2 linked regions of the Homo sapiens genome follow. The protein of the gene in region 1 interacts with the protein of each later gene in a pairwise test. Each region holds a gene or a part of one and is shown in the gene's direction. Other genes may lie near its edges.

The links. Proteins that work in one complex are often made in the same cells at the same time.
Region 2: the proteins of AHI1 (region 1) and HAP1 interact in binary tests that used the Homo sapiens proteins (3 or more experiments, as listed by UniProt).

The regions. Positions count from the first base shown.
Region 1 is NC_000006.12:135,490,280-135,495,960, reverse strand, and holds part of AHI1 (jouberin), read left to right. Parts: intron 1-62; 5' UTR 63-147; intron 148-251; exon of another isoform or gene 252-422; intron 423-3,669; 5' UTR 3,670-3,723; coding exon 3,724-3,733; intron 3,734-5,213; coding exon 5,214-5,338; intron 5,339-5,681. UniProt on the Homo sapiens protein: Involved in vesicle trafficking and required for ciliogenesis, formation of primary non-motile cilium, and recruitment of RAB8A to the basal body of primary cilium.
Region 2 is NC_000017.11:41,722,140-41,724,643, reverse strand, and holds the end of HAP1 (huntingtin-associated protein 1), read left to right. Parts: 3' UTR 1-2,004; downstream 2,005-2,504. UniProt on the Homo sapiens protein: Originally identified as neuronal protein that specifically associates with HTT/huntingtin and the binding is enhanced by an expanded polyglutamine repeat within HTT possibly affecting HAP1 interaction properties.

The DNA.
Region 1 (5,681 bases):
AAGTAATTTTATTGCAATGTACTGATTACTTTGCTTTTTGGTATTTTCTCTTCTCCTTACAGTACTAAAATAGGTGCCATTTTAAATTCCCAGACAAGGAAAAACCAAGGATTAGAAATTAAGTAGCTTGCCCAAGGCCACACATCAGTAAGTGGTGACACTAGAGCTCAAGCCTGAGTCTTTTTTACTCGCTTTGCTTTTGCTTCTCTTCACTTCGCTTCTCTCTTCTTCTCCTCTCTTTTCTTTCATAGTGGCAGATACATAACTATAAGAGAGCATTGGCTTGGTCCTCCAAAGCTAGCAGTTTGGTGGGAGTTACAGAACATTTTACCAGGGTGAAAATTCAAGGTTGAGGTAGAGGGAGCTACAAAGATTAAGGCACCCTGGAAGCACAGAAGAGAAGTTCTTAAATGCCCTTCAAGGTGAGAATGCTCTCTAGAGAAGATATCATTTGCCTTTAAAGGATAGTGAGGAGTTTGTTAGAGAGACAAAGGAGGAAGCACATTTTTCAGGGGAGGGGATATGTGTGTAATGATACAAAAGCAAGAGAGAACTTGGCACACGTGAAGGCCTGCAGGTAGTTTCACATGTCTGGAACACAGTGGATGTGTGAAGGGGACATTTCATAAATGGCCTTGGACCTCACTGGTAAGGACTTGATATTTTTTTCAATGTGCGATTGGGAGCTAGTGAAGAATTTTAAGCGAAGAAACGACACCATCACATTTGAATTTTAGAAAATTACACTAGTTGCTGTGTAGATGATGATTTTTTTTTTAAGGGAAAGGTGATAGCGGCGTGGAAACAATCTTAAAACAAAAAGCATAATCCTTCCACAGTGTTTTTGTCCCTCAGAGTTACTGTCTCATGTCACTGCCTTTGGGGGTGATGGGAAGACAGTTGGAAGAATTCTGTAAAGAATTGTCTACATGTCCCTTCTACAGGTGTCACCTTCCATTCATTCCTTAGCCCCAGCCTGCTAAGTTTCTGCCCCTCTATAAACAGCTTTGACACACGTGACTTCCTACTTGCAGATTCAGTGGACTTTCTTCAAAACCTCCAGCCCCTTTTGATGCCACACAGTATATAGGCAACATCTCCTTTAAAACTTGGGTTTGCTTCTGTAATGCTTCTATCTCCCAGTTTTTCACCTATCTCCCTGATTTTACTTTATATTGTAGGCTCACAGGATTCTCATTGGCTTTTTATTTTCTTGGAACTATCATATTTATAAATAACTCCCAAATCTTCAGCCTATTGTCTCCCTGCTGGATTAGTAGATTGCCTAACAAACATAATATGATTATATACGTAAACACACACACACGTGACAGTAATAACAGTTGTTGTTTTTGAAGGGCTTGCCATGTGCTAGGCATTGTGCCTAGTATTTTATTTGCATATTCTCATTTAATCTTTATAAAAACACTGTGAGTGATTTACTCTTATTATTGTGAAAGATTAGGAAGTTGATATCCATAGAGGTGAATCTGCTGGCAGATAGAACTGGTATTTGGATCCAAGGATCTGAAAATGGAGCTGATGCTTGTAGCTGCTCAGTGCCCTTCAGATACCCAACTCAACATGACCCATACTAAGCTCAGTGACTGCACCCTAACAACCTGTTACAGTTATAGCTAACATTTATTGTTGCTTCTTCTGTCTACGGTACTGTTCTAAATCATTTAACCCTTACAACAACCCTTTGAGTCGGCACTGGTAGGGTGTTTTTATAGATGAGGAAACAAAAGTCACGCAAGTGACTATGGAAACTAATTCTAGGACATGGATTTTAAACTACTGCCCTGTACTGCATTATATTACAGTGTAATGATACTACTAATCTACTTATTCTAGTTCTAGAAACATGGGAATTATCTCCGATTCTTTCTCCTGCCTCTTCATTAGTTATTTAATCTTTCTAAAATATTACCTCACTCCATCACCTGGAGCGCACTGGTGCAGTCTTGGCTCCCTGCAACCTCCACATTTCAGGTTCAAGCGATTTTCCTGCCTCAGCCTCCCCAGTAGCTGGGATTACAGGCACCCACCACCACGCCTGACTAAGTTTTGTATTTTTGGTAGAGATGGGGTTTTACCATGTTGGCCAGACAGGACACAAACTCCTGACCTCAAGTGATCCACCCGCCTTATCCTTCCCAAGTATTGGGATTACAGACATGAGCCACGGCGCCCAGCAGGCTTTTTTTTGATGAATCATAGTCATAATATAGGTCAGCTTTTTCCTGGCCTATTAGATGACCATCGAGTAGTATAAATATTAAATTTTTATTTGTTTTATGATTTTTCTACTTCCGTGCTCTCAGGTTTCAATTACTCATGCTGTCATTGCACTTGCCTTTGCAGCTTCTCTTTTCTAATTTAATATAGACTAGAAAGTAGAAGACTAGATTTATTAAATTTATAACTGCTAGAAGGAGTAAATACAGGCTCCTATCACTAAAGTATAGGAATTTTTACTCCATGGATTTAGTGATGTCTGTTTTGACTGGGTGCCACGTAGTTGTTGCCTAAGTTAACTGACATAGTTAGGTATGTTTACATAATCATTCCTTTCTTTTTAGAATTTCTTAGACATTTCTGCAAGAGGAACATGAATGTGGATGTCCAGGGAATTGGAGCATTAACCAATAATGCCTTGGGCCCAGTGTGGTGGCTCACGCCTGTAATCCCAACACTTTGGGAGGCTGAGTCGGGCAGATCATATGAGGTCAGGAGTTCAAGACCAGCCTGGCCAACATGATGAAACCCTGTCTCTACTAAAAATACAAAAATTAGCTGGGTGTGGTGGCGCACACCTGTAATCCCAGCCACTCGGGAGGCTGAGGCAGGAGAATCGCTTGAACCTGGGAGGCGGAGGTTGCAGTGAGCCGAGATCACACCACTGCACTCGACAAAGGGAGACTCCATCTCAAAAACAAACAAATCAATAATTCCTGAACCAGCTTTTTTTTTAACACTCTTCAGTTTTAGTCTCAAAAACATGCATATTACATTCTAAATGTTCTAATGTGAGAATATGTTCATTTTAGACATACACCGATTTTTTTAATAAAATGGGCAATTTAGTAATATACATACTGAGTTGAACCATGGTTTTGAGTAGTTCTGACACAGTAATACACATCCAGGTTTTATTAAAGAAAGATGGTGCAAATATTTGTACTATCCTTCTCTATTGTAGCAGAATTTTCAGTGGCAGACACAGAGGTATTTAAATTCACTGTGAGTGTGCTACCCACAAGCATGCTTTAATGTAATATTGAATGCTCTTAGGAAAGTCAATCCTGAGATGGAGTTTGGTTTCTTAAAAGTGCGTTGAAATGTTCATTAATGTATTAAAACACTTTAAAAAGTTTATTAACATACCACATTAGATGTGCACTGCCTTCAAAATGTTTTTTTTGTTTCAAATATATAAATACTTTATTCAGATATGATCTAGTTTGTTTCCCTTGATTTTAGAGCCCTAAACTGATTCAAATGTACCCAAGTCATTTGCATAAGATTGGGTTAAGGGAACATAGCTTTATTGGTATAAACTTAATGAAGTAGTGGACATACAATGGCATGATCTTGTGTGAAGAACGTTTTATAATTTTTATTTGGAAGTTCCATATTACAAATACATCTCCTTTGTTTCGATAGGATCCTGATTGAGTCAATGCTTTGCATTCTCAGTCCTCTGCATAAAGCTGAGAGATGCCTACAGGTAAGACTTCTATGAAATTTATGTATAAAATTTATATTTTATACATTTACTTTTAAGTTTGGTTTATTTTAAGGGATTCTTGAACAGATTAATGAATACAGTAGATGTCATTGACCAAATATACTACATTTAGAGATACTTATTGGTTTTGTATTCAGTTTTCTATTTAATATTGTGATTAAGGTTAGTATGTATTTAATGGATGGTAGTTTGGGACTCAGATGGACAAGGTAAATAATGATTACAACATAGGGTTAGTTTTTATTCTTTATCATCAAAATTGAATGTTTTACTCCACCACAAGCATTGGCAATCTTTTCTAAAAGGGCTAGCTAGTAAATATTTTAGGCTTAGTCTCTGCTATAACTGCTCAACTCTGTCTCTCTGTCTCTTTTAAAGCATGAAAGCAGTTATAACAATTCTTAATCAAATGGGTATGTCTGATTTCAATAAATCTTTACAAAAACAAGTGACTAGCCTGCAGGCCATAGTTTGCCGACACTTGCTCTAGAGCACCCATTCATTCAGCATTTATTAATTTAAAACATAATGACTATGTACACTATGTCAGACCTCATAATAGTAGCTGGGGATGTAGTTATGGGGGAAACAGAAAATATGTTTCTTTATATAGATATAAAAATAATTATATAATTTCCATTTGGGTTGAGTGCTGTGAAGGAAGAGAACAACCTGCTATGTGAGAAAAGGGAAAATTAGATGAGTTTGTCAGGAGGTGTTTTATTTACAGGCAGCATTTAAACAGACAGGTTAACACCAGCCAGGTGAGGAATTAGAGGAAGCTTGCCTCAGAAACAGCTTCATGTGGGAAGGAGCTTGCTGTGACGGAGGAGCTAAAGGAAGGGTATTATAGCTAGAACATAGGCATCTAAGGGGATATTTGTCTTGATTTGAAGCCCTGGAGATAGATCAGGAGGTATGGAGCCCTGTAGGGCATATAAAAGACTTATTTTATCCTAAATGTATTGGGAAATTTTCAGGGGCTTAAGCATTATCTTCTTCATGTTTTAAAGGAAAAACCTGTTAATATTTGTGGAATACTGATTACAGGCTAGGCACACCTTAGCCATTTTTCATGCAAAATGATCTTTGGCATAAGATAATTGTGATTTTACAGATAAGGAAAATGAAGTTTAGAGATCTTGAGTAACTTGTCTAAAGCCACATAACACGTAACTAACAGTGGTAGATGCTACTGTTTATCAGAAATAAAAAGTTAACTTAGCAAAGGAGACTTTTAGAGTGAGTGGCCAAAAAGGTCAGAGGGATACAGGTGAATGTTGTGTCACTAAAGTCAAAATAAAAAATATTTTAAGAAGGAAAGATAGGTGAGTTTTTCTAATGTAGCTAGAGAACTCATGCCGATATTTACAAGAACTTATTTCTTAACATCCTAGTAGTGTAGGTTGTGTGTTATGATAGAGTCATTTACAAAATCACATGGCTGTATCTTTTGTAGCTGAGAGTGAAGCAAAAGTAAAAACCAAAGTTCGCTTTGAAGAATTGCTTAAGACCCACAGTGATCTAATGCGTGAAAAGAAAAAACTGAAGAAAAAACTTGTCAGGTCTGAAGAAAACATCTCAGTAAGTAAATGATCATTGGGTAATAGTGATTTACATATGCGCATAAAATGCAGATATGGCTGCATTTTATGTTAAAATTCTAAGGAATTTTGAAAATTAAAAACAGTAACACTATGTCATGGTCAATAACATGTGGTAAAAATAAAGTTTATATTAGAATCAACATCACTGTGAGAATATTGACTTCATTCTTGAGTGCTGTCCTACAGGAAGAACACACACACAGTGGGGAAAATGACCAGAGATAGTGGGGAAACTCAAAACTAGCCATGATAACATTTTTGAAGAAAATATTTTTAACCCAGAATTGTGAAGAACTTAGGAAGTAGTATCTTAACTTCAG
Region 2 (2,504 bases), on another chromosome or scaffold:
CTGTGCTTATTTGCATGGACTTTGCATATCATTTGCATAGACACCTCTGATCCCCTTCAGTGGGAACCGTAGTGTCAGTGCTCATTTATGTGGCATTTGCTTAGGATTCCAGATCTCCATCCACTTTTCTCCTGGGGGCTGGGCTGGGGGTTAGGGCTGGGACTGTGCCCCCACACTGCGCCTCAGCTTCCCATCTCTGCCCGCTTGCTTCCCCTGCCCCCAACCCCTGCCTCCTCTATCCCCCAGGCTCTCCAACTCTGCAGCAGTGGCAGCAGCAGTCAAAACAAACACGGGGGGCGGTGGGTGGGATGGTGGAGCAGCCCGGGGGCTGACCCAGGCTGGAGGACAGGGCCAGCCACCCTCCCACGGCCTGGGAGGAAGAGAGGCCTTCTGGGACTGCCCAGGCTATGGGGACAAAGGCCTTCACCAGCAAGGGCCACAGTTGGAACAGTCCCCTGGGTGTCAGAAGGTGGGCTAGGGCCTCCTGCAGGGTTGTGGGGTGGAACAGGGTCTCCTCTCCCCAGCCAGAAACCCCAAAGTCTGGGAGCTGCACCTTCCGAGTGCAGGCCATGTGAGCCCTGCCTCTTTAAGGAGCCGCAGGACATGAAAGATGACCTTGTGACACTCATGCACAGCAGCCATTGCACGTGCATCAGCTCCCATCAGCCTCATTCCGTGGCAGGTGATGTGTCCCCATTGGTTAGGTGAGGAGGGTGAGGCTCAGAGAGCTAAGGACACTTGTTTGGGGCCACACAGCCGGGGTAGATCTGAGCCCGTCCTCTCTACTCCTGTGCTGTAGCACCTTCACTGGCCCATCCCTCCCCTCTAGTGCTGTCCTGGTACCCGTCCCAGCCTGTCCCCATTCTCATGGCCCTTTGGTCACTGCCGGGTGGAATAGCACTGGCTTCAGCAGGCGTGTCATGTAAGCTTGTGCAGGTTATAAACTGAACCATGACCTTTATGGCGCATGCAGGGGGCAACCTGCATAATTATCAATGGCGACTTTCCGTGTCCTTCTGATACAGTTGATCAGACCCCTGCCCACCGCCCAGGCCAGGCCTGTGGTCATCAATGCCCCAGTTCACATCCACCTGCTTCTCTTCCAGGCTTTGCTGTTCCCCAGCAGCCTGCAGAGGCCCCACAGACAGCTTGAGGCCCCTCCTTCTGCTGCCTGGCCAAGCCCCACACCCGCAGACCCTCCTTCCCATCCTCTGAAATGGGACCCTGTGTCTGTCACCAGCCCACCCTCTGTGTTCATGAACCTGGGCTGGAGCTTGGGGACCCCTCCCTGCCCCTGGCTTCCTCTTCCATGTTCTGCCCTTTCCCACATGTTGGAGGCTTTTCCAACGTCTTCAGGGACAGGCGGTAGGAACCCCGGCCCTCGCTCTGCAGCTGGTGCAAAAGCTGTGGCTGCCAGGTCTGGGCCACATGGCAGCCCAGGGGGCAGGAGAAGCCCGGGAGAGGCCCACTGGCTACCAGACTCAGCCCTGAGCAGGGAACAGGGCCCAGCTTCCACCGGCAGGGAGTTGTGAGCGCCTTCCCAACAATGTGCCCCTCACCCCTTGATGCCCATGCTAATGGTAGCCACCCTGGTTCTTGTTGACTTGAGGGACCTGGCTGTCTTCCCTGTTCTTCATCCTTTCTTCTCAGTCCCTACCTACTGTTTGTAACCACAAGTGTCTCTGTGTGTGGGTGGGTGAGGGCCCCTCTGCCCAGTGGTGTGTCTCCTCTCCCTCCCTCCCTCTTCTGCCAGTGGCCTGGGGGTGTCCAGGCTCCCATCCGTGGCCCAGCCCCTCTCCCCTCTGTCTTGATCCCCCCCTCCCTGCCCCTGGCTTCCTCTTCCATGTTCTGCCCTTTCCCACACCTTTGTTCCTCAATAGCTGGGGGCTGGGACTGAGGCCTCCTGCAGGTACCTGCCCCCCTTCACACAGCACCTCTCAATCTCCTATTGCTTGTCAGCCTGTGTGCGTGTGGTGCAGGAAATAAAGGATCTATACCCTCCTGGCCCAGCCTCCAGCTGTCTCTCTAGGGAGTGTGTGTGTGCACTTGGCAGGGCGAAGTTGTAGAGAAAGGGTGGATGCTAATATTGAAGTATGTGCCGAGGACTCCTATTAAATACGCCGTTTAATCATAGCAGCAGCTCCTAGAGGGCGGTGGGTGATGTCATAAGTGTCTGTTGGATGGAGAAACTCAGGCCAGAGTAGGTTAAGTGATGCCCTCACCAGCAGATCATGGCTAGTGTGGAGCTGGGATTTGAGCTCATGCTTCCCTGATCCTTTCACCCCAGAGACTGACTCAGTGGCCTGGCTGTGAAAGATAGGATGGGAGAGAGTCACCCACTGTCTTAGGGTGAAGTCCCCAGAGCAGACCTGGAACAGGGTTTAGGAACAAGTATAGTCGCCCTCCGTATCCTCAGGCTCTGCATCCGTGGAGTCAACTAACCACAGATAGAAAATATTTGGGGGAGGCTGGGTGCAGTGGCTCATGCCTGTAATCCTAGCACT